Homo sapiens: one gene and its partners. The protein of the gene in region 1 interacts with the protein of each later gene in a biochemical or structural test. Each region holds a gene or a part of one and is shown on either strand. Other genes may lie near its edges.

Region 1 (2,935 bases):
GCACACGCTGACCACGCTGAGCAGCGAGCCGGGCCAGTCCCAGCGAACGCACATCAAGACGGAGCAGCTGAGCCCCAGCCACTACAGCGAGCAGCAGCAGCACTCGCCCCAACAGATCGCCTACAGCCCCTTCAACCTCCCACACTACAGCCCCTCCTACCCGCCCATCACCCGCTCACAGTACGACTACACCGACCACCAGAACTCCAGCTCCTACTACAGCCACGCGGCAGGCCAGGGCACCGGCCTCTACTCCACCTTCACCTACATGAACCCCGCTCAGCGCCCCATGTACACCCCCATCGCCGACACCTCTGGGGTCCCTTCCATCCCGCAGACCCACAGCCCCCAGCACTGGGAACAACCCGTCTACACACAGCTCACTCGACCTTGAGGAGGCCTCCCACGAAGGGCGAAGATGGCCGAGATGATCCTAAAAATAACCGAAGAAAGAGAGGACCAACCAGAATTCCCTTTGGACATTTGTGTTTTTTTGTTTTTTTATTTTGTTTTGTTTTTTCTTCTTCTTCTTCTTCCTTAAAGACATTTAAGCTAAAGGCAACTCGTACCCAAATTTCCAAGACACAAACATGACCTATCCAAGCGCATTACCCACTTGTGGCCAATCAGTGGCCAGGCCAACCTTGGCTAAATGGAGCAGCGAAATCAACGAGAAACTGGACTTTTTAAACCCTCTTCAGAGCAAGCGTGGAGGATGATGGAGAATCGTGTGATCAGTGTGCTAAATCTCTCTGCCTGTTTGGACTTTGTAATTATTTTTTTAGCAGTAATTAAAGAAAAAAGTCCTCTGTGAGGAATATTCTCTATTTTAAATATTTTTAGTATGTACTGTGTATGATTCATTACCATTTTGAGGGGATTTATACATATTTTTAGATAAAATTAAATGCTCTTATTTTTCCAACAGCTAAACTACTCTTAGTTGAACAGTGTGCCCTAGCTTTTCTTGCAACCAGAGTATTTTTGTACAGATTTGCTTTCTCTTACAAAAAGAAAAAAAAAATCCTGTTGTATTAACATTTAAAAACAGAATTGTGTTATGTGATCAGTTTTGGGGGTTAACTTTGCTTAATTCCTCAGGCTTTGCGATTTAAGGAGGAGCTGCCTTAAAAAAAAATAAAGGCCTTATTTTGCAATTATGGGAGTAAACAATAGTCTAGAGAAGCATTTGGTAAGCTTTATCATATATATATTTTTTAAAGAAGAGAAAAACACCTTGAGCCTTAAAACGGTGCTGCTGGGAAACATTTGCACTCTTTTAGTGCATTTCCTCCTGCCTTTGCTTGTTCACTGCAGTCTTAAGAAAGAGGTAAAAGGCAAGCAAAGGAGATGAAATCTGTTCTGGGAATGTTTCAGCAGCCAATAAGTGCCCGAGCACACTGCCCCCGGTTGCCTGCCTGGGCCCCATGTGGAAGGCAGATGCCTGCTCGCTCTGTCACCTGTGCCTCTCAGAACACCAGCAGTTAACCTTCAAGACATTCCACTTGCTAAAATTATTTATTTTGTAAGGAGAGGTTTTAATTAAAACAAAAAAAAATTCTTTTTTTTTTTTTTTTCCAATTTTACCTTCTTTAAAATAGGTTGTTGGAGCTTTCCTCAAAGGGTATGGTCATCTGTTGTTAAATTATGTTCTTAACTGTAACCAGTTTTTTTTTATTTATCTCTTTAATCTTTTTTTATTATTAAAAGCAAGTTTCTTTGTATTCCTCACCCTAGATTTGTATAAATGCCTTTTTGTCCATCCCTTTTTTCTTTGTTGTTTTTGTTGAAAACAAACTGGAAACTTGTTTCTTTTTTTGTATAAATGAGAGATTGCAAATGTAGTGTATCACTGAGTCATTTGCAGTGTTTTCTGCCACAGACCTTTGGGCTGCCTTATATTGTGTGTGTGTGTGGGTGTGTGTGTGTTTTGACACAAAAACAATGCAAGCATGTGTCATCCATATTTCTCTGCATCTTCTCTTGGAGTGAGGGAGGCTACCTGGAGGGGATCAGCCCACTGACAGACCTTAATCTTAATTACTGCTGTGGCTAGAGAGTTTGAGGATTGCTTTTTAAAAAAGACAGCAAACTTTTTTTTTTATTTAAAAAAAGATATATTAACAGTTTTAGAAGTCAGTAGAATAAAATCTTAAAGCACTCATAATATGGCATCCTTCAATTTCTGTATAAAAGCAGATCTTTTTAAAAAGATACTTCTGTAACTTAAGAAACCTGGCATTTAAATCATATTTTGTCTTTAGGTAAAAGCTTTGGTTTGTGTTCGTGTTTTGTTTGTTTCACTTGTTTCCCTCCCAGCCCCAAACCTTTTGTTCTCTCCGTGAAACTTACCTTTCCCTTTTTCTTTCTCTTTTTTTTTTTTGTATATTATTGTTTACAATAAATATACATTGCATTAAAAAGAAAGTGGCCCTGTGGATTTATTCACCCAGTTCTCCTGTTGGATGATTTGGCAAATTTGAGCACAAAAGACATTGTGGAGTGCTGATTGCTGTGATGTTTTTGTTTTTTATCAGCACCTTTGGCAATCCTAGAAAACAAGCTGAGGAAAAGACTGTATCTCCAAAAATCTAGGCAGAAAAATCTTGAAAAGTGCCACTCCAATAGATCACACAGAAAATTACATGTCAGTAGTTGCTCACTCTGGCAAAAATGTTTGTTGTGGTTTTCATGACCTCATGCTTCAGGGCAAAAGCTGTCCCTTGTGGAGGTCACAGGGAATATTAGACCTGAAATCAGGAGCTTGTCAGTAGACAGAATGCCAGAGGGGTGACTTGCTTATCTGGTTTTAATATGGCAAACTTTCCGTTCCTATGAACACATACCCAAGAAATGGAGTATCCACTTAAAAAGCAAAGGAAGCCAGAGAAAATCAGTGTCTACAGGGAACCAGAGAGAAGCCTGTCGTATTAAC
Region 2 (7,128 bases), on another chromosome or scaffold:
TGCTATAAGTCTTCGAACGTCCATTTCCAAGCCAAAAGGAAAAAAAAAGGAAAAAATAATTATACCATACATGTCCAGCATGCAGGCTTTTTTTTTTTATTAATATAATGTCTCTTTTCCATAAAGTCTTTGAAACAGTTATAGTTCATTGTTGCTAAGACAAAGTAGCAAGCATAATAATGCATGAGATGAGAATGAGTTTTTTTAATGGCAGACTAAACTCTCAGATTTGGCATCACAAGGCCAAAACTCACAAGTCACACCCAGAAGGTTGATGCAGGCTTGATTGTGGAAGGTTCATGAGGATTTTTTTCTCTATTTTAGCATAACAATGCTAAAAAAAAAACCCGATGGAACTCGGCACGCTGCAAGTCTATAACATTTCACATTTTTTTTTCCTTTGCAAGCTCAATCTCACATGAAGAACTCAGGAGAAGAAAAAAAAACTTTGCTTTTTTTTTTCTTTCATCTCGGAAGAGATGGGTTGAGAAGGAGTGAGGGTGGAGGTTGGAAAAAAGGTGGGCAACACAGCAAGCTCTAAAAGTAAAATTAAAAAAAAAAATCCAAACAAAATAAAACACACACACACACAGAAAATGAACACCAGTTCATGAACTGAAGGGGAAGAAGAAGAAAAAATATGTGAATGATGCAGGCTTCAAAGGTGATCAACGTTTCACATGAAGAACTCTGCTGAGATCATTGAACATTGTGCAAGTCCGGGGGTGGGGCGGGGGGGTGTAAAAAAAAAAAAAAAACAAGCTAGCAAGTTATGGAGAATTTCAGATTGGCAATCCATGAGCCAGACACCCATTCCCTCCCCAGTTTAAAACAGCCACCACCACCACAAACTCGAGCAGGGTGTGGGGTGTGTGTGTGTGTGTGTGTGTGTGTGTGGTGTGTGCGTGCGGGTTTGTGTGTGTGTAGGGGGCCAAGGGGGCCAAACTCGGTGGGGGTGGGGGTGGTGAGGTGGTGGCGAGCATGGCTCTAGAACTAGCAAGCCCACACCCGAGCCGGACCCCCGCGGAGCACTTATCAGGGTGGCTAGCTGGAATCGCGTGTCAGACTCACATGAAAAACTCGGGAGAGGACGGGTTGTCGCTGCTCGAGCCGTTTTCTCGGAAGCCGCTGCTCACCAACTTCTCGTATTTCTCCTTGTACGCGTCCCTCTCGCGCACCAGCCTGGAGATCTCCTGCTTGAGGTGGTCGACTTGCTGCAGCAGCTGGTTCTTCTCCGACTCCAGGACGTGTCTCTGCTGCACCCTCTTGAAGCGGCAGGACTGGGCATAGCCGCGGTTTTTCAGGGTCCGCCTCTTCTGCTTCAGCCGGATCACCTCCTCCTTGCTGACCCCGCGCAGCTGCCGGTTCAGCTCGCGCACAGACATGGTCACCAGCTGCTCGTCGGAGAAGCGGTCGTCGAAGTGCAGGCCGCCGGCGGCGTGGTGCGGGTGCAGGGCGCCCCCCGCCCCCGCCGCGCCCCCGCCGCCTCCGCCGCCGCCGCCGCCGCCGCCGCCCCCAGCGCTGGCCGGGCCACCGCCGCCCGCGCCCCCAGCGCCACCGGCCGAGGCGGCCGCGCTGCCCGCGGCGCCGGGCGCGCCGGCCGTCGGGTGGTGGTGGTGGCCGGCGGCGTGGTGGTGGTGGTGGTGGTAGTGCGGGCCCGCGCCGCTCTGCGCGGCGGCCGCGGCGATCACGGCGGACACCACGGCGGCGGCGGGGCCCATCTCCTCGCCGCTGCCGCCCAAGGAGGCGCCGGCACCGGCCCCGGCCGCCGCGGCCAGCTGCTGCGCCCCGCGCGCGTAGCCATCGAAGCCGCCCTGGAGCTGGTGGCTGTTGCTGATGAGCGCCTCGACCGCGTCCTCGGGGCTGAAGCCCAGCGCCTCGGGGTTCAGCTGCTGCGGGTAGCCGGTCATCCAGTAGTAGTCTTCCAGGTGCGCCTTCTGCTCGCTGCCCGAGCCCGGGCTGGGCGCCGAGAAGCTGGGGGAAGGGGGCACCGAGCTGCACGGCGTGCTCATGGGGGTGGAGGACAGCGAGCCCCCGGCGATGAGACGGCCGCACTGGCTGATGATGCGGTCGGTCTCCACCGGTTCCTTTTTCACTTCAAACTTCATCAGATCGAAGTCATTAACATATTCCATGGCCAGGGGACTGGTGGGCAGGTCGGAGTTGCTCATTGCCAGTTCTGATGCCATTCTCCTGCCGCCGCCGCCGCCGCCGCCGCCGCTCCGCCAGATGGGCTGCAGGAGAGGGGCCAGCGGGCTGTGCTGGGTGGCCAGCGGGTGAGCCAGCTTGCCGGGCTGGGGCGCTTCTAGCTTGCGCGGCGGTGGCTGGCCCGAAACCTCCGAGCGCGCTCACACACACACCCCCCCGCCCTGCCCGCGCCCCCCGCGCCCGCCCTCCCTCCCCCCTGCTCACGCCAATGTGCTCCCTCGCTCGCCCCGGCCCCTCCTTGCTCGCTCGCCTCCTTGCGCGCCGAGCCGGCGGCTTCAGGCTCGGGAAGATCCTCCGCGAGCTGCGGTGGCGGCGGTGGTGGCTGCGGCGGCGAAGCTGGAGGAGCCCGGCCCGGTGCGCGGCGTCCCCCGCTCGCCGCTCCGCTGCGCGCTTTGCATAAGGAAGGGCTCGCCTCGCCGGCCCGGGCTGCAGGCAGGGCGCGCGCGGCGTCCGCTCGGGGCTGGAGGCGCGGCGGGCGTCTGTCCGGGCGGCGCGGGCCTTGGCACGGGGGAGTTAACACTTCATGCTTCTCGCCTCCTCTTCTGCTTGGCTCTCTTTATTATTTTTTTTCTTTCCTCTCTCTCCCTCGCGCGCTCTCTACCTCTGTGCAAAGTGCAAGGCAGAGGTGCAGCCCGACTGGAGGAGAGGGAGGGGGGAGTTTAGTTCTTTCTTGCCTTTTTTTAAAAAAGCAAAATAGCGAAGTCCTGGGGAAAGACGAGGCAGAGAGCAAAGGGGGGAGGGGGAGGCCAAGCCGACAAGCAGCCCGAGCTACAGCTAGAAGATGAAAAAAGATTTTAAAGCCTCTGATCCAGCAAGAAGAGTTTAAAGCAATTGCTGAGTTTTATAGCACTCGTGACGTCAGGTCCAAATGAGAAATTGACTGGCACTCCGGGCCAATGGGAGGCGGCGAGAGCGGCCGCGATTAGCATAATAGTATAGAAACAAGGAAACTTTTCGGAGCTGTCAATCAGGGCCCAATCAGCTGACTGTCAGCTGGGACGGGCTGGCTTAACCCTTCCTGCGCCGCTGCCTACCCGGGAGGGAACGAGGCCCGGCGCAAAGTTTGGTGTAAGAGGGGAAGGAGTTTTTCCAGAGGGGCTTCGGCAATCCGGGCGGACCTGGGAGGGCGGTTTGCTTTTCTTTGGAGCGCGAGACAGGCCTCCCATCCGGAGCCCCAGCTCGCTGGGGGCTCACTCGGCTGGGATTGGCCTGATTCCCCTCCCCTGCCTGCCCTCCACCCCCAGGATTGTGAATTCGCCTCCCAGCTTTTCCTCCTCGCACCAACTCTGGTACCCAGGTGTCTGCCGGGGACCTTCCTTCCCTGAGCCTGGCCGTGCCCGGCGCTCAAACTTGGCCCCAACTCTTTGTCCGTCTCTCGGGCGCCCGTGCGGGGAAGGGACCGGGAAGGGAGGGATGCAGTGGGGTGTCCGGATCGGGGCTGCGGGCTGGGCGCCGCCCGGCCATGCGCCTGCCCAGAAGGCTGGGCATCCGTGGAGAGGGAAAGCCCATTTTATCCCTCTCTTTACAACGAGGTAAAATAAGTTGTTTAGAGGCCATTCTTCACGGAGACCGGCTGCCCGCTGGCGTCGCGTGCCCTTGGACAGAGCGAGCGCCTATGCGAGATAACTCCGGGGAAGCTCAAAGTCAGGTCAGCCGGGCTCAGCCTTCCGGCTCCTGACTGGCCGGAGTTTGGCCTTTGAGACTCATATTGCGCGCTCGCTCTCTCTCTCTCTTACACACACACACACAAACACACACACACTCACACTCACCCGTCCCCTTACGAAATCTGACCTCTGTTTATCAGGGTCAGGCGCGCCCTTTGCACTTTTACGTTTCCTTTAATTATTTCGGACTTGATCGTGGCAGGGAGCAAGGGGGAAAAACAATACCCCAGCCCTCACCAGCTACCCTCGAAGGGTTAAATTTTAAACCGCGGTTTCTGGAACTAGTCCGGAAACGCAGAGTGGGGGGTGGGGTGGGGGAGGCTGCTCCCCCCACCCCCAGTTGCAAATGCTAATAAGTAGTTCAAATTTCTAGATTGATTCTCTAAAAGTTTATGCAAAAAAGAAATAAAAAAGAAAAAGAAAAAAGAAGGAAACCAACAACTAACTCTGTTTCTAAGATTTTAAAGCGATAGGCAAGTCGAAGAAGCAGAGATTTATTTGGAGAGAAAGCTCCTGAAACCGACCCAGCCTTTGGAAGACCAGCCCGTCTGCTTAGAAGTTGGGACTGTTGATTCCTTCAATTAATGAAATGCATTTGGTGTTTTTAATCGTATTTATTTTACTTTATGAGAAGGGGGAGACGCTAGGAGGGTGCATTAAAAAAAAAAAAAAATTCTGAAAAGCCTGCAAAAGGATCGAAGAGTGGAAACTATTGTTGGAGCGAGTTGGTTTTTACCTCAACAGCGCCACCTTTCGGCAAAGGTCAGTTGAAATTGATCCGTGTCCAGTTTTGTCGATGAAGTGAAAAGCAGCTGGTTACCCAGTGTGGGAGGAGGAAAGAGACACACAAAGTTAGTTTGACTGAAGTGGGAGAACCCGACCCTATAGGAAAGGGGCCGAAGAAAGTGCTGGCAGATGCAGAGATCATTTTTGCCCCTCCTCTTCTCCTTGATTGTTGACAAAGAGGCCAGGGGATACAGACACCCTCGGGGTGTAATTTCTGGCTGAGACCTTTGCAAGAGGATCCCCATGTAACAGGGCCCCAAACCCTTTAAAAGTGCCAGGATGGATTTTCAACGGGCTTTATGGCAATATCAATAGGATTAAAGTTACTTGTAATTCAGTGATAAATGAGATGTCTCTAGTAAGTAAGATTAAGTGCAGTGCTATAAAGTTGTTTATCTGGAAAGTAATTCTCAGAAAACCTGACTTCTGACACTTAGTCATATATTAAGCCAGCGTCTTGAACATTGCACTTCAGAATGGTCTTCCCCACCCCGCAGCATGCTTTGCTATTTATAACCTCAGGTGTCTCTCACTCGTTCCTTGCACCATATTAGACCTGTGTTAATTTCTCTGATCCTAGTAGACTTCAGTTTCAGCAAACCCAGGAATCCTTAATGGAAGACTTCCCAAAAGATTCGTAGGCACACCCTAATCTGAAAAGGGCAGCGCTGTCGGTATTTTTCAGACAAGTAGTGTTTCTTTTCATCGTGACTGCAGAGAAGTTGTTAATAAGGGTAGTTTTGGTCTTATAAGAGCATTTTGTTGGGTGGAATAAACTATGTCTATTACCAGTTTGGGGAAGAAAGAGTGAAGATTATGTCAATATTTATGCAACCTAGCAGAATTCCCTTGCTTTCCTTCTCTTTAACAATATTTTCCCTAGTAATGAAGTTAAGGGATTATAGTTTATTTAGAGGAAAATCCACACTTTCCATTACATAAGCATTATGTCATTTAACATTGCCCGTAACAATAGTTTTCTAGGTCTTTTTAAAAGTCAGTAGTCACAAATGTAGGAAGTTTATATTTTTCATGTAAAATATGAATTTAAGTGTATTTAGAAAGAATTTATTGTTTGTTTATGATATACTTTTAATCCTTTTGCATCATATTTGTGTTAAAAGCTGTAAGGTATGATCATTGCCTCTGAAAGCAGTATTATAATAAATAATAAATAATATTTTATACACAAAGTTTGCTAATGATGAAGACTGTGCCATACACATTCATGGCTGAGTATCTAATTGTTACATTGTTATATATCATTTCTAGAAATTAAATGCCCATGTTTGGGCAGCTAAATATATTATTATCTGCACATTTTTATGGTTTATTTATGTACACTGCTGTGAAGACATGGTATTTTTATTTCTCTTATTGCAAGGTCTTTTATAGTCGCCCATTTTCTCTTGGAAAAAAAAAAGAGAGGATCAGAATTATTTTTTTAGATGTGTAGCAGTAATGCTCTCAGGCTTATAACTTAATTCTCATTTTTATCCTTTTTACATTATTATTTAGTGATTCACAGGGGTGTCTAAACATTTACAGTTCTCTGTTAGCAGCATTTCTTTTATAACAATTGAGCTCTCTCATTTTAATGAGTACTATTCAGGTTTTTGATTCTGTACAATTACAGTGGGCCACATGTCTTTAGACTTCTTTGCTAACATTGTTTGTTTCACTTCTATCCAAGCCAATCTAATCCAAATACAATGTGAACTGTGTTTTCTTACTGCTTAACATCCCCTTGCTATATATACTCTAGTAATCTCTGTAGAACAATATACAGTAATTTAGAAACCATGCATTTGTCATTATTGACCAATTCGGACCAGTAGTATTAAAGTTTTTGAAAGCAATGAATATTTATAGGAGATTTGTGAGGGGGAGGAGGACATGGGTTACATCGCATAGAATATTGTGACACAGTAACATCAGAAACACAATTATAGTTTCACGTCAGTACATACATAATGACTTCATGCAAAAATGAAAAACAAAACCCCTGTTCATGTCCAAATTACAAAGATTAAAAGCTTAAAGGAATATATTTTCCCCGATTGTGAGTTATAGCAACTCAAATATATCATGTTGGAATCAGACATCCATAATCTGAATAGAATGGGATGCATCAGGTATGGTGTCTGGACTCTTTGTTTAGGGGCTGATTTTATGGGGCAGAACTAACCAGTGTCCACTAAATTTCACTATGAAACCAACTAAATTGATTTGAGAAAGAGTTCTTCAGAGTAACTGAACGATAAGGCGTACACTGTTCTTAGGTCCAGTGTTAGATAAATCCTTTTAACAGTCTTCAGTTAGCAGGGTAAGTAAATCACAAATCACTGTTAGCAGATTCATGGAAGAAAATTAATAGAATCAGACGAGATAATCTGATAAGGGCAAAATTGCTGAGGAAACAGTCTTGCCTCATGTTGGAGGATGTGAAACAACAGTCTGATTACTA
Region 3 (7,038 bases), on another chromosome or scaffold:
AGGGCCATCTATGCACAGTTCTTTAGCCTGGACTCTTGGTCACTCCCTGGAGCCTCAGCCCATCCTTGGCCCATGTGACCCTTTCTTTCTTCCCCAGCACCACCAAGCGCCCCAAGTCCATCGATGACAGTGAGATGGAGAGCCCTGTTGATGACGTGTTCTATCCCGGGACAGGCCGTTCCCCAGCAGCTGGCAGCAGCCAGTCCAGCGGGTGGCCCAACGATGTGGATGCAGGTATGGGTGCGGGGGATCCTGACCCAGAGCAAGGGCAGCCCAGAGTCTTTTTGTCCCCTTCTCAGTTCACCTGGTGAGCCTCCCACCAGTTGTCCCCCTGTCGGGGGGCATTACCCATCTGTTTTCTTGCCTCCTGATCTTCCAGGGAGGGCAGAGCAGGCTGAAGGAAGGGAGTGGAGGTGAGGGTGAGGAGGGGTGCTGTGAGAGTCAGCAGCAGAGCCCGTGGTATGGCGGTGGGAAGCAGAGGGGGTGCCAAGCCTCTGGTGCCCCACAGTGGGATGGCCGCAGCCCCTCCTGGTATTTCTCTAGAGGTTGCCCCACCCCGTGGCCTCATGGTTGAAAGCAGTTTCTCACCCTGGGGGCTCATCATTCTGTGTAGGGGATTGTTCTGTGCATGGCAGGATGTTTAGCAGCATCCCTGGCCTCCACCTACAAGATGCCAGCAGCAAAACCCCCACCCCCAGTTTTGATGACCAAAAACGCCTCCAGACATTGTCAGACGTTCCCTAGTGGGATGGAATCCTCCCAGGATGAGAACCACTGGTCTCAAGGGCCCAGCTTCACAGAGAGAGGCTCAGAGTCTAGTGAAGAATGAGCAGAGTCCTTTTGAGACCAGGTAGGGAAGCTAGCGAAGGGGAGAGAGTACAGAGGAAGCCAGCTCAGACCTTCCCAGTCTCCTCTAGGGATCTTCTTCTTGTTGAACCCACCCCCCTTCACCTCCATTCTTGACTGAGGGTGCAGACAGACCTAGAGAGGACTCTGGAAGACAGCATGTAACACGTGCGTGTGTGTGTGTGCATGTGCATGAGCACATGTGTGTGAGGAGGCTGGCCGCAAGAGTCCCCCGCTGACGTGCCAGTGGTACAGCCCGTGTTTATCCTCACTGTGGGTGTGACAGGGCCTGGGAGTGCAGACTCACGCGTGTGGGTTGTGCACAGGGCATGGCTGCTCTGGACAGGCCTGGGCCCTGGGCATCATTCTCCTCCTCCAAAAGGTGAGGGTCTGACCTAATGGTACTTTGTCTGATGTTTTCCAGATATGCCCCTACTGGGAAGGGCCAAGTGGGCAGGCAGAGTCTGGGGTGGAGCGAGGTGGGGCTGGGAAGCACTCCTGCTTTTCTGCTGCCCCAGAACGAATGCAAGTTCTGGCAGCTTCTCCTCCTCCTGGGAGGAGGAAAGGAGGGCTCGCCTCCAGGCCTCAGGCTGAGGGAGTGGGCTGGAGACCCTCTAGATGGCCAGCAGAGGCTGGCCTCTGTGAGAAGGCTTCCTTGCGTGACTCTGGGGCCCCTCCCAGGCTCTCCTCGTGGCAGGCAGGGACTTGGGCCAGCATGGGCCACATGCTTCCCTAGGGGAGCCTTGAGAGGCAGAGAGAGGAGTTGAGAAGGCCCGGGAGACTCTTGGGCTACATCCTGGGTCCCTGGCCGGGGCCTCAGTAGGTGACCCCTTCTGCAAGGACTGCCCCTGGGGTGCATAGAGGACTGTGTCTGCAGCTGGCTCCTGGGGCAAGGGCTCCTGGGCTCCTGTGCCCAGACCTAATTCCTGAGGAGCCCCCCTCTTCCTGGCTCCTGCTCTCTCCTTTCTTGGCTGTCTGCTTTTGCGCCTGCCATTTCTGCATTTCTGCTCCTTCCGGCAGTCCTGCCACGCACGGCCCCTCAACATCCTCCTGCAGCACCCTCCGGCTCCCTTTTCCCCTCACCCCGCTGTGTGTTGTTTTCATGGGCTGCAACAAATTGCCAATTAAGCAGCCCAGCTGCAGGACAGGGAACAGCTGGGGAGGCACTGTGCGGCCATGGGGACAGCTGTGCACAGCTGGTAGGATGCTCCCCCCTCCCCACTGTGCCAGCTATCAGGTGGCACACAGCTGCTGCCAGATAACACCTCCGCTGGCGGCTGGGAGTTCGCCCTTCCCCCGCCCCTTCCCTCTGCAGTTAAGATGGCTCTTTATTTCTCTGTTCTGCAGCCCCTCCACCCCTCACCCAAACTGACTTGATTTGTCCTCCAAGGGTGGCAGCTGTGAGATCTGCCCCAACTCTACCTTATCCTTCCCAGCCTGGGCACAACCTTAAAGCTCAGCCCAAGATGGGAGCTGATCTTTCCAGAAGAACCTGGCCCCCTGGGGGCCCTGCTTTGTCATTTGGATGCTATGGCCACTGGGCAGAGATGAATTTCTAAAGACAGACTTCAAACAAGGTGTTCTCTGTGCCCTTGTTTCATGCTGAATGCCACCCACACCTCTGGCACCAGAAGCAGGGCAGAGCCCTGAAATTATCCATCCTATGGCAGCTGAGCTTCTGGGTCCCCTGGCTGGGGGAGTCTTCTCCCCTCTGGCTCTGCCTGCACAGCCCGGCTAGGCCTGAGCAGCCCAAGGACTCTCCAGGTCCTCTGGCCTCTGTCCCTGCTCTCTCGCTGGGCATTGTGTCCCTCCTGAGGGCTCATGGCTGTGTGCTCCCTTCCCTAAACGGGGCCCTGGCTTCTTCCCACCAGAACCTCCCATGGCCCCGGGCACCATGGCATAGACCCCAGCCTGTCCCTCCCAAACTTACCCCTTCCCGGCTCTCAAGCTGGCGCCCTGGGGTTCCTCCTGCACTCCTTTCCCAATGTTGGTCCTGCATCCCACCCTTTCACTTCATTACCTGCTTGCCAGGGCATAGGCTGGGGCCCTTGCTCACCCCCTGCCTGGCACACACCACCCCACATTACCCAGGGGCCTCGTTTTCCTCTCTGGTTAGAAGCACCCCTTGGCTGGCCTACACACAGGGCCTCGGAACCAGGCCTAGAACAAGGCCTGGGACTGGGCAAGGAGCAGCAGGAGGGAGCACAGTGGAGGAAGGGGCAGTGGGGAGGGGCTGAGGAGAGAAGGAGCGAGCTGCTGGCTTCCCGCCTTCCCCGCACCCACCCCAGCCCAGCTAAACCTGCCCTGTGTTGCTGCTTCCTCCCCCCAGGCCCGGCTTCTCTAAAGAAGTCAGGAAAGCTGGACTTCTGCAGTGCCCTCTCCTCTCAGGGCAGCTCCCCGCGCATGGCTTTCACCCACCACCCGCTGCCTGTGCTTGCTGGAGTCAGACCAGGTGAGAAATGGGGGGCCCCGGAGGGGGGCAGTTGGGGAGGTGGCTGAGTATCTAGGGGCAGCTGGCCAGGTGAAGGGGCCAGAGCTGACCCCGAGTGACAGCCCCACGCTCTCCAAGTGGGCCAAGGTGCAGCAGCGGGTGGGCATGGGAGCCGGCCCCTGCTTCACGTAGCACCTCATCGAGGACCAGGCCGGGCCCCTGGGCTGCCCACCTGGCTCCTGAGCAACCTCCCACTTCTCACTCCTCACGTGCATGGGTGCTACATACAACACAAGCCTGTCCCGAGTCCTCCCCAACTCTGGCCCAGTTCTCCTTTTGTCCTGCCAGCTGTGAGCGGGAAGGCACAGCCTTCTGCTCTGCCTTCCTGCCGGCTCCTCTCTCCCAGCTCCTGGCTGAGCCCAGGCTCTGGATTTTTGCCAGCATGAGCCCAGGTTGATGTGGGGCCTGGATGGAGAAGAGTACTCCTAAGGAGCCCAGGCTCCTGCGGCAAGTAGCTACCTTGTCTGGGCCTCCCTGCCGCTTTCTAGAAAGGAAGGGCTGGGTCTAGGGGACAGGTGGTACCTGGGCTGCTCCCCAGGAAAAGGAACTGCCCACTGCCGTGGGGCTGCTCTCTGACTTCAGTGTCCCAGTTGAGAAGGTGCTCAGGATGAGAACACCTAGATCGCCCTGAGGAGATAGGATCAGGCAGGAGGCTGTGGGAGCTGAGACCTCAGCCCTGTCACTCCTTCACTTTCTTCTTCCCTCTCTGGGCACCCACCTGGCAGCAAGAGGCCTGGACTTTTTCTGGATATGGCCCTATGTCCGCCTGCCATCTCCTGGGCTCGTATGTAGGACACAGAAAATGAGGAGGTTTACCTCCTGGCTTCCTCCTTGGGGCCTCCTGGCTGGGAGCCCAGAGGCAGCCGGTGCTGGGGCAGGGTGTGGTGGCCGCGAGGTGGGGGTGGGGAGCCCAGGCCCTCTACACAGGCAGCAGGAGGGCGCAGGCCTGGCTCCTCCGGCTCCACCTCAGCTTTTATGAACTCCAGAGAGAAGCCAAGTTTCCTCAGCCCCCTAATGAAACCGAGAGCAAGAGCGAGCTGATTGGAAACAGACGGGAGGAGGAAGAGCTGGGGCCTGCTCTGGGTTGGGAATTGCGTGTGCAAGGACGCGTATGTGAGGACACGTGTGTGAGTGATGAGGCTGAGCACATGAGAACACCGCCTAGGTGGCGGTGGCTGGGTGCACACCAGCTCGCACTCAGGAGATGTGTGTGCATATGTCAGACGGCCATCCTGAGCAGATGCTGGCTTTGTCTTCATCCAGAGCCCCAGGGAACCCTCTGCCTCCTCTTGTCCCCCACCCAGTCTCCCACCCAGGGCCTGAATTAAGGCAGGGCTAGTGAGGCACTCACCTTAGGTGCAGAGTGTCAGCAAGTATCAAAAACTCAGTCATCAAGATAAATAATATTTTAATGGAATATGTTTTAAAATCCAAACTATTGCAAAAAAAAGGGTATGGTAAGCAAACACCAGTTTTTTTGTTTGTTTTTCTTTTTCTTTTTTCAAAGACAGTTTCCTGCTCTATTACTCAGGCTGAATGCAGTGGCACGATTATAGCTCACTGAAGCCTTGAACTCCCAGACTCAAGTGATCCCTCCTGTGTGCCACCCTGGCTAATTTTTAAATGTTTGTTGTAGAGACGGGGTCTTGTTATGTTTCCCAGGCTGACCTCCAACTCCTGGATCAAGTGATCCTCCCACCTTGGCCTCCCAAAGCACTGGGATTACAGGTATGAGCCACAGCACTCAGCCATGTCTTTGTTTAAAATGGTTTAAAATGTTGAGGCTGGGCACAGTGGCTCATGCTTGTAATCCCTGTACTTTGGGAGGCCAAGGCAGGAAGACTGCTTGAGGCCAGGAGTTCGAGGCTGCAGCGAGCTGTGATCATGCCACTGCACTACAGCCTGGATGACAGGGCGAGATCCTGTCTCTATTTAACAGATACTGGCTGGGCGCGGTGTCTCACGCCTGTAATCCCAGCACTTTGGGAGGCTGAGGTGGGCGGATCACAAGGTCAGGAGATCGAGACCATTCTGGCTAACACGGTGAAACCCTGTCTCTACTAAAAATACAAAAAATTAGCCGGGCGTGGTGGTGGGCGCCTGTAGTCCCAGCTACTCGGGAGGCTGAGGCAGGAGAATGGCGTGAACCCGGGAGGCAGAGCTTGCAGTGAGCTGAGATCGCACCACTGCACTCCAGCCTGGGTGAGAGAGCGAGACTCAGTCTCAAAAAAAAAAATTCTTTAGGCTGGGCACAGTGGCTCATGCCTGTAATCCCAGCACTTTGGGAGGCCAAGGCAGGCAGATCACTTGAGCCCAGGAGTTTGAGATTAACCAGGACAATATGGCAAAATCTCATCTCTAGAAAAAAAAAAAAGCAAAAATCTACCAGGCCTGGTGGCGTGCACCTGTAGTGCTGGTTACTTGGGGGGCTGAGGTGGGAGGATTGCATGAGCCCAGGAGGATTGCTTGCCGTGATCCGTGTTTGTGCCACTGCACTCCAGTCTGGATGACAGAGCGAGACCCTGTCTCAAATAATAATAATAACACTTTTTTAAAAAGCCAAATAAAATAAAGACAAGATCCTACCCTGCCTCATCTGCCTCATCCTAATCTCCCAGCGCTGGTTGTGATCAAACTTTATTTACAAAAACAAATGGCTGGCCTTTGGACCCTAGTTTGCCTATTTGATTATTATTATTATTATTATTTTTGTATTGCATTAAAACATCATGGATCCTGATGACTGACTTTTTTGTGCCGCCTTAACTTTTGTGCCTGTGGCGGCTGCCTTACCTGCTCAGGATCCTCAGGACCCTCTGACCGGCAGCTCCCCTCCTCTCCTGTCCCTCCCACTGGCTGCCTCCTTGGCCCTGACGCCCTTTTTTCCCTGCCCACGTGCATGCAGGGAGCCCCCGGGCCACAGCATCAGCCCTGCACTTCCCCTCCACGTCCATCATCCAGCAGTCGAGCCCGTATTTCACGCACCCGACCATCCGCTACCACCACCACCACGGGCAGGACTCACTGAAGGAGTTTGTGCAGTTTGTGTGCTCGGATGGCTCGGGCCAGGCCACCGGACAGGTGAGTCCAGAGGGCCCCAGGAGCCCGGCTACAGCCTCATCTCCACATCTATCTGTCTGTCTCAGGGCTCACAGGGAGAGGGCCCAAAAGCCAGGAGCCCACCTGGGGCTGGAGCAGCAGGGAGCTGGTAGTACCAAACGCCTCGATTTTCTGGGTCTGGGGACGGGGGTCTGTGTATTATGCCAGGGCTTGTCTATCATGGTCCGGAGAGGTGGGGGCAGCATCTGGGCCCCCTTGCTCAGTCAGGCTCCTTGCCTTTCCCATGGTCCTTGCCCCCTCAGCAGGAGTGAACTCATGATGATCCAACCCGGATCTGGGCCCTGACCTCCCAGCGCTCCTCTTAAACCTCGGGGCTGCAAGGATTTGCTAGATTCTAGACCAGGGTTTCCCCAGTATCAGCACTGTTGACATTTGGGGCTGTTTATTCACTATTGTGTGAGACCATCCAGTGCTCTGTAGGATGTTGAGCAATATCCCTGGCCTCCACCTGCTAGATGCCAGGAGCACCTCCTCCTCCCCAGTCTTGATAATAAAAAAAAGTCTCCAGATTTCAGTGTGCCCAGGAGGGGAAGACCATCCCTAGTGAGGAGCACTGTGTCAAGGGAAAGCCCCGATCCACA
Region 4 (7,038 bases), about 34 Mb from region 1:
ATGGATGTAGAGATTGGACTTAGAGTGGCTAAGTAACTTGCATTAGGCTACACAGCTGGTAAGTATCACAGCCAGGATTTAAATCCAGGTCTGTCTGATCTAAGACTAGTGCTTTATACTGAACACTTCCTTGGGGTTTCTGAAGCAGAGAAGCCACGATTCCTCCCCAAACTCCTGTGTCAGGGGCTATAGCCAGACCTGGCCAGAGGATTGGAAGCCTGGGACTCAGGATGAAAGGCAGAGAAACAGAGGATGGGATTGGATGGGAAATAAGTGGTCGAAAGGTAGGCTTGGGGTAGGTATAGAAATTGGATATGAGAAACAGTCTGTGTGCAGAGATGCAGGGGTGGCATGGAGGAAGAAACTCTAATGCCCAGGATGGCATGCCACTGGTATTTTTCACTTGTGTTCATGGTTCTTGATTAGAGATGTTTGGGGTGTATAAATTGGAGGACACGGGACTCTAGAAGATTCTTCTCTTTTAGGGAAGGCAAACAGGATGCAAATTAGATGCCAATTGTGATCATTTGATAATGGCTGCTTGGAAGTTTAGATTGCAAAGGCTAAGTTGAAGTTCACTGGGAAAAGGTGCTGGTGGTTTATGGACGCGATCTTTTCCAGAGGTGTTGGAATGGGAAATTGGCGGTGTGTGTTCCACATGCTGTCTGGCTCCAATTCCCCTTCATCTGTAGGCCTACACTGTCCTCTTCAAACCCTTCCCTGGGAATCTCAGGGGTAGAGAAGAGGACTAGAAAAGGTACAGCAACACTCAAGAGTTATGCTTGAGAAATTGTCTTAGTCGGTTGATCATAGGCAGGGAAAAGTGACCAAGCCAATAAACTTCCGAGAAAGTTCAGACCCAGAGAGGGAAAGTGGTTGGCCACTGAGGGTCCTGAGTGCTCCCTCCCTCCACATGCCCGTGTCCTTACTGTGTGAGTTCTGCAGCTGAGTCACAGCTGCCATGAAGGGCTGCTGGGCCATGTGGCTGCCTGGGCTCTGCTGCATGAGGGGCTGCTGGTGAGGGCTGTGCAGCTGCTGGGAGAACTGGACGGGCTGCAGGGCTGCCAGGCTGCCGGCCACACTGTTGATGACAGGGACACTCTGTGCTTGGGAGGTGTTGAGGCCTGTGGGAGCAAGAGGAAAAGATCACAGACAGCTCCTGGGATAAGGAGAGGTGGATGGATGCCATCATTTGAGCCCCCGCTCAATGTCCCAGTCACCGGGCTGAGCCTGTTACATAGGAGATTCCATGGGAGGCAAGTGTAAAGAAACGGAGACTTGGAGATATTAATTTACTTGCTCAAGTTCCACAATGAGTTGTGGGTTGGAGATGGGCATTAAACAGATCTGATTAAAGCCTGAGAGTCTCCCAGAGTCATCCTGTGACCTCCCAAACTTAGCTCTCTTGAGGTTACCAGGGCTTTGGAAAAGCTGGCTCTACCTGCCCACTCCATCCATGCCAGGCTGTGAGAGAGGCTTGCCCTGGTGCCCGCAGGGCAGAGTTAAAGATGTCCACACTGAGGCACAGGTTATTGCCCAGATCGGTCTGTCCAGTAGAGGGCAGGAGTGTGCAGGGACCCAAATTTTGACTAAAAACAACTTCCATAGTCCCGGGAGTATGAGGTTGGGAGACCCTTATTTAGTAGACTGTACAAAGACCCCCAGAGAAATCAGGTGCCAACTCCCTTGACTGTAACAGAGAGGGGAGAAAACACTGGAACTCAGCCAGTCTGCGAGGCGGGCATATCTTATGTGGCAGCATAGGGCTTGTGGCACTAAAAGGACCAGGTTTTAGAAAGAGGAAGTAGTACATTAAAGGTTGACTCTTGGCATTTATAGTGGGTCTTCCCATCTTTCTGTTCTGGAGATGTCAGGGCCTCTGTAACTTGGAACTGTGTATCCTGAGGCCTCTTTAGAACCCGGGCCAGCACTCTGAGGATTGGATCCCCTGGTACCCATGCTCTATCTCCTCCCTGAGAGCGACACGGAGGAAGACAGCTAAGGTAGGATCGGAGTGGGGACAGGACGATCAGGAGAGAAGACACCTGGACCTGCTTCCTGGGGTCGATTGTGTTCCTGTGTTCTTGCTTTCTGGGAAGTTGGGGGAAGAATGGGATGAAGAAGGAATCCAGAAAAAGGTCTGTTTTAGGTGGATGTGGAAGGGACACCTAGAGAGGCTTTCCTGAAATGGAGACGGTTTCATAGGCAGGTTTGAGGGAAGTCATCAATGGAGATAACACGGAGTCCTCAACAATTGCCTACTCAGAGCTTTAGCTGATACTGTTATCAGAAACCTAAAAGGCGAGACCCCTGAGCAGAAAGGACAGGGGATGAATCCTGCTTCTGGCTCTCCTGGGTGGGGGCTGGGGGTGCCACCCTCTGATCACCCTCAGAACAGCACTGTCTCCAGTTCCCCAGGGGGCTCAGCGTCTCCTCAAGCCAGCATCTCACCAGATACCCTGATGACCGATGACCGTGTTTCCCTTTCCTACCTCCTGCTTATGGTCTCAGTCTCCCAGAAAGCTCCATGAATGTGCCGTTTTTGAGAAATCTTTGAGAGCACTGCTGCTGCTCTTTTTGAGAAACTGCTGCCCAAAAAAGCAAATGATCCTGTCTAGAGTGGATGACATTTGAAGGCATAGTTCTGAAACCTGCATGTGCTTCAGAAATCATCTGGGGGAGCTCTTTAACAAATATACATTCCTGGGCCCCACCCAAGACCTAATGAGTCAGAACCTTCAGAGGTGGGGCCCAGGAATCTTATTTTCAATGCAGTCTGTGATCCTGATGTGCCTCAATTCCAGGATTGAGAGCCTCTGATGTCATTCCAGCTCCCTCAGTGGGTAAGTCTTGACCTTTTCATCTGTTTCTGTTTCTGGGCACTGGTTCTTGCTTGGGAAGTATGCTATCCAGTCCAGGGAAGAGATGAGAAAGAGAATAGGATGAAGAGGTGAGAATGAGTAGAGAATAAGGAATTGGCCCTGCCAAATAATTTGTTACCACCTTCTCCACAGGCTTCCGCAATTCTGAGGCAGGGCCCATGGTACTCAACACATCAGTCAGTTAAATGAAGATGCCTGCAACCAGTTTCTCATCCTAACACTCCATAGTGTAGGACCTCTGTGTCTCAGCAGTCTTCTGGTGATTCTCACCATTTCTCATGCTCTGTCTACCCCAAGTGTACACAGATATGTACACACACAGCCATCCTTCTGAGGTCAGTGTGCACTCTGGTGCAGCCCATCTGAATAGGAGATTAAGGAGCATCGTGAAATGATAGAGAAATATGAGTAGAGGAAATTAGAAAGAACAAAATGGAAAGATGCAGACTAGCCCCAGGGAAAATTTTAATTCAGATAGTATATATATATATATAACTGTATGGCAGTGAAAGCTTAGAATGGAAAGAAAGAAGTTAAGTGGGACAGTTTGTTTATTATTTTGGTTGCAGAAATAAGTGGAATATCTTCCCCACGGGCCTTTTAATCAAATCTTCTAAATGGCAAACAAGCTGGTTTTAGGTATCTTATCTCATTCCAAACTCTGGTATTAGTATAATTACCATATTCCATATACCAGAGGGCCCAGTCAAAAGGCAATACATTTAAAATGATCATTTATATTGTGAGTTCTCTAAATGCTTCCCCATTCCCATTTTCCTTCTGCCAAAATCAATGCACTGTGTGTCAATTTCCAAGCAGCTAAGGATAGAGTGAGAGCCACACATATTCAATAAATTTGTGTGCCTCCAATGGGCTTAGCCCTGTTCTGACCTCAAAGGATGTGTAAGTCATTCTCTTCAGAAGTGAGAATCCAAGTTCCGACCCTAGCTAAAGCTGATTTAGGGAGAGAAGAGGGAAGAAAGAAAAAGGCAGAAACAAAACAAAGAGGTGGCCAACATGAGCCCTAGATACAAGGAAGGTAAGAGGACAATGGAGCAATACAAGGTTGAAAGAAAGATGACCAATGTGTTACCCTTAGATCTCTCCCAAGACATCCAGCAATACATCCAAGGGTCACAAGGATGGTTTTGAGAAACAACGACACCTGAGCTGTCATAGTGAAGCTGGAAATATGCTGAATACTCATCAACATTAAAACTCTCAAAGAGATATCCACAACCACAGTTCCCTTCAGCCTTCTCATGCCTCAAGATGGCCCATGTATGGGAGGGCACAGGCTTGCTGTTGAATATGAGCCTCCTGGAGCTGGAGGGACCTGATCCATCTCCGTGTCTTCAGGCGTGTGATGTGCCAAAGCAAGCTTTTTCTCCTTAAAGTTTTCAAAGCTCTCAGATACAATGGCAGTTTCCCTCTGGATCCTCCCTTGGTGTATTTTCACTGCTGGCCAAGGAGATTTCATATACCACACAAAACTCCCCATTTAGAAGGAAACCTGTCATTCTTACTTCATCATCACCAAACAGAAAGAACCTCCTGAAAAATCTACCACCTACTTAGTGATAGGAATGAACTCAAGACAAAGTGTAAGCTACGATGTTATACATATTCATGCTTTAGAGATTTATAAGCATGTTCATATTCACTGTCAGTTGATCACTTTAACAACCTATTTTATAGATGAGGACATTGAATCTCCTGAAGGTTCAATGATTTGACCCAGGATGCACAGCTGCTAAACTGTGACCAGGATCCAAATCCATTCCACAATTTTCTCTTGTTTTAGGCTAAACAATCCAAATATTGGATTTAAGGAGACAGATGAGAAACTAAAGAAGTTAAACCAAATCTACTAGTCGTGGGTGAGTTTGAAGGAGACCTACAGTTATTTTTCACCACATTAATTTGCTTCCCATTCTTCTTCTCCCTGCCCCCAAGTTTTCCAACCAAGAATAGAACTTACTTTGTGCAATTGCCATGACTCCAGAGAGGGGTGTCATGATGAGGTTTTGAGATTGCTGGGGATTATGGTGGGAGAGGCTGTGGATATTCGTCAAGGTGCTGACTGGGGGCAAACCTCCTCCTGAGACTGAGATCTGATGGAGAGAAAAAAACAAGAGAAACATGGGTGGACTTGGACCACAAAGAGCAGTTTCCAACACGATGTGACTTAGCGATTCCTTGGCATGACTAGTTCTCAAATTCATTCCTTCATTCACTCAATAACAATTATTGGCTGGGCATGGTGCTTCACCCCTGTAATCCCAGCACTTTGGGAAGCCAAGACAGGAGGACTGCCTGAGCTCAGGAGTTCAAGACCAGCCTGGGCAACATGGTGAAATCATCTCTACAAAAAAAGAAAAAAACACAATTATTAAGTGTCTACTGTGGGACAGACACTATTCTAGGTGCTGGGGATAGAGCAGTAAGTAAAACAGACAGTGATCCCTGCCCTCATGGTGCATCTATTGTTGACTGTCTGAGTTACTAGCCAGCTTCAGAAATTACTAAGGGTTGGGGGAGATTAGCCATTACAAGGTTTCTCTACTTTTTCCACATCTCCAGTACACATTACAAAATTTTTTTTCTTTTTTGGTCAAGGATCCTATATTGTAATCACCATTATATTTTAATGACAGATTAGTATGAGAAAGCTACTGATTTTGGTGTATTTACTTTGTACATGACCACTTCACTGAATCCTACTAGTGTCTTTTCCTCATTGATTTTTTTCCAAGTATGTAATTGTAATACAAGCATCTGATGGTAACAGGGTCTTTTCCTTGCTAGTACTGATATGTCTACATGTCCTATTATATTGCTTAGAACTTACAGTATTAAACAATAACAGCTGTAATAGATGTGCTTATTTTGCTTCTGATGTTATCAGAAATGTTTCCAATGTTTTCCCATTAACTCTAATTGTAATTATAAGGGCGCGATCAGTTTTAAACACACCTACACTTTTTCCATGATACATTAGTTTACTACTTATAGTTTCAAAATAATTTTTTTCTTTTTTTGAGGTGGAGTCCAGCTCTGTTGCCCAGGCTGGAGTGCAGTGGCATGATCTCTGCTCACTGCAACCTCCGCCTTGTGGGTTCAAGCAATTCTCCTGCCTCAGCCTCCCGAGTGGATGGAACCACAGGCACCTACCACCACGCCTGGCTGATTTTTGTATTTTTAGTAGAGACGGGATTTCACTATGTTGACCAGGCTGGTCTTGAACTCCTGACCTCAGGTTATGTGCCCACCTCAGCCTCCCAAAGTGCTGGGATTACAGGTGTGAGCCACTGTGCCCAGCCTCAAAATAATTTTTAAAGTTATTATGAAGAAAGGACTGGCCCCTCTTATTCTGAACCCAGGCGTGCTTGAGAGCATCAGGAACCCCGAGAGGTGCTTTAGGGTTAGGATGCACCAGATGTCTGAGTAACTCAACTTTCCTTCTTCCATCTTTCACTTCCCAGAGCTTTTCAGACGATAGCTCTCCCACCAGCACCCAGGTAAGATGCTATCTCCCACCCTGCCCTTCCGGTCAACTCCATAGTGTCCAAGGTTAATTTGAAAAAGAAAGAAAGCAAAAACCAAACAGGTTTGTTTGTGTTTTTAAAATAAGCATCAAGAAATGTTAGGGGGTCACATGACCAAGAAGGAATTCTGACCACATCAAACAAGAGAGAAGCAGCCTGTTTGCTGGACTTGTTTTTCAAAATACCAGTCATTAAAAAAAAAAAAAAAAAAATCCGTAGCCTGCCCTCAGACTGAATCTCTTGGGTAATGTAGTTCCTTTGGAGAAAGTCAACCAAGTGACAGTAATTTCTCTGACATTTCAGCATTTGGTTAATGGTATAAGAGAAGTGTGGAGGCCAATGATAAAAATAATTTAAATGTGTGTGACTTTAGGATTTGTAAAGTGCTTTCACTGATTGTCCTTAATAGATAATGACACAAGTAGGGCAGGCATTATTACTATCAGTCCCTGTATTACAGATTAAGAAACTGATCTTCAGAAGAGTTGAGACTATTTCTATGTCACTTGACTCATAAGTGAAAAAGCCAGAGTTAAAATCCAGTTTTGCTGGAGCTTAAATCTTATTCACTTACTAAGTTTGGGCAACCTTGATCAAGTTACTTCCCA

Evidence for each region.
Region 2: the proteins of SOX9 (region 1) and MAF form a complex in vitro, tested with the Homo sapiens proteins (one study listed by BioGRID).
Region 3: the proteins of SOX9 (region 1) and NFIX form a complex in vitro, tested with the Homo sapiens proteins (one study listed by BioGRID).
Region 4: the proteins of SOX9 (region 1) and HNF1B form a complex in vitro, tested with the Homo sapiens proteins (one study listed by BioGRID).

What each region holds. Positions count from the first base shown.
Region 1 is NC_000017.11:72,123,994-72,126,928, forward strand, and holds the end of SOX9 (transcription factor SOX-9), read left to right. Parts: coding exon 1-394; 3' UTR 395-2,423; downstream 2,424-2,935. UniProt on the Homo sapiens protein: Transcription factor that plays a key role in chondrocytes differentiation and skeletal development.
Region 2 is NC_000016.10:79,597,714-79,604,841, forward strand, and holds the start of MAF (transcription factor Maf), read right to left. Parts: upstream 3,025-7,128; 5' UTR 2,190-3,024; coding exon 1,072-2,189; coding exon of another isoform or gene 1,068-1,071; exon of another isoform or gene 1-1,067.
Region 3 is NC_000019.10:13,075,438-13,082,475, forward strand, and holds part of NFIX (nuclear factor 1 X-type), read left to right. Parts: intron 1-97; coding exon 98-234; intron 235-3,175; coding exon 3,176-3,298; intron 3,299-6,242; coding exon 6,243-6,418; intron 6,419-7,038.
Region 4 is NC_000017.11:37,700,054-37,707,091, forward strand, and holds part of HNF1B (hepatocyte nuclear factor 1-beta), read right to left. Parts: exon of another isoform or gene 4,997-7,038; coding exon 4,864-4,996; exon of another isoform or gene 4,687-4,863; intron 2,844-4,686; exon of another isoform or gene 2,772-2,843; intron 1,125-2,771; coding exon 930-1,124; intron 1-929. UniProt on the Homo sapiens protein: Transcription factor that binds to the inverted palindrome 5'-GTTAATNATTAAC-3'. Binds to the FPC element in the cAMP regulatory unit of the PLAU gene. Transcriptional activity is increased by coactivator PCBD1.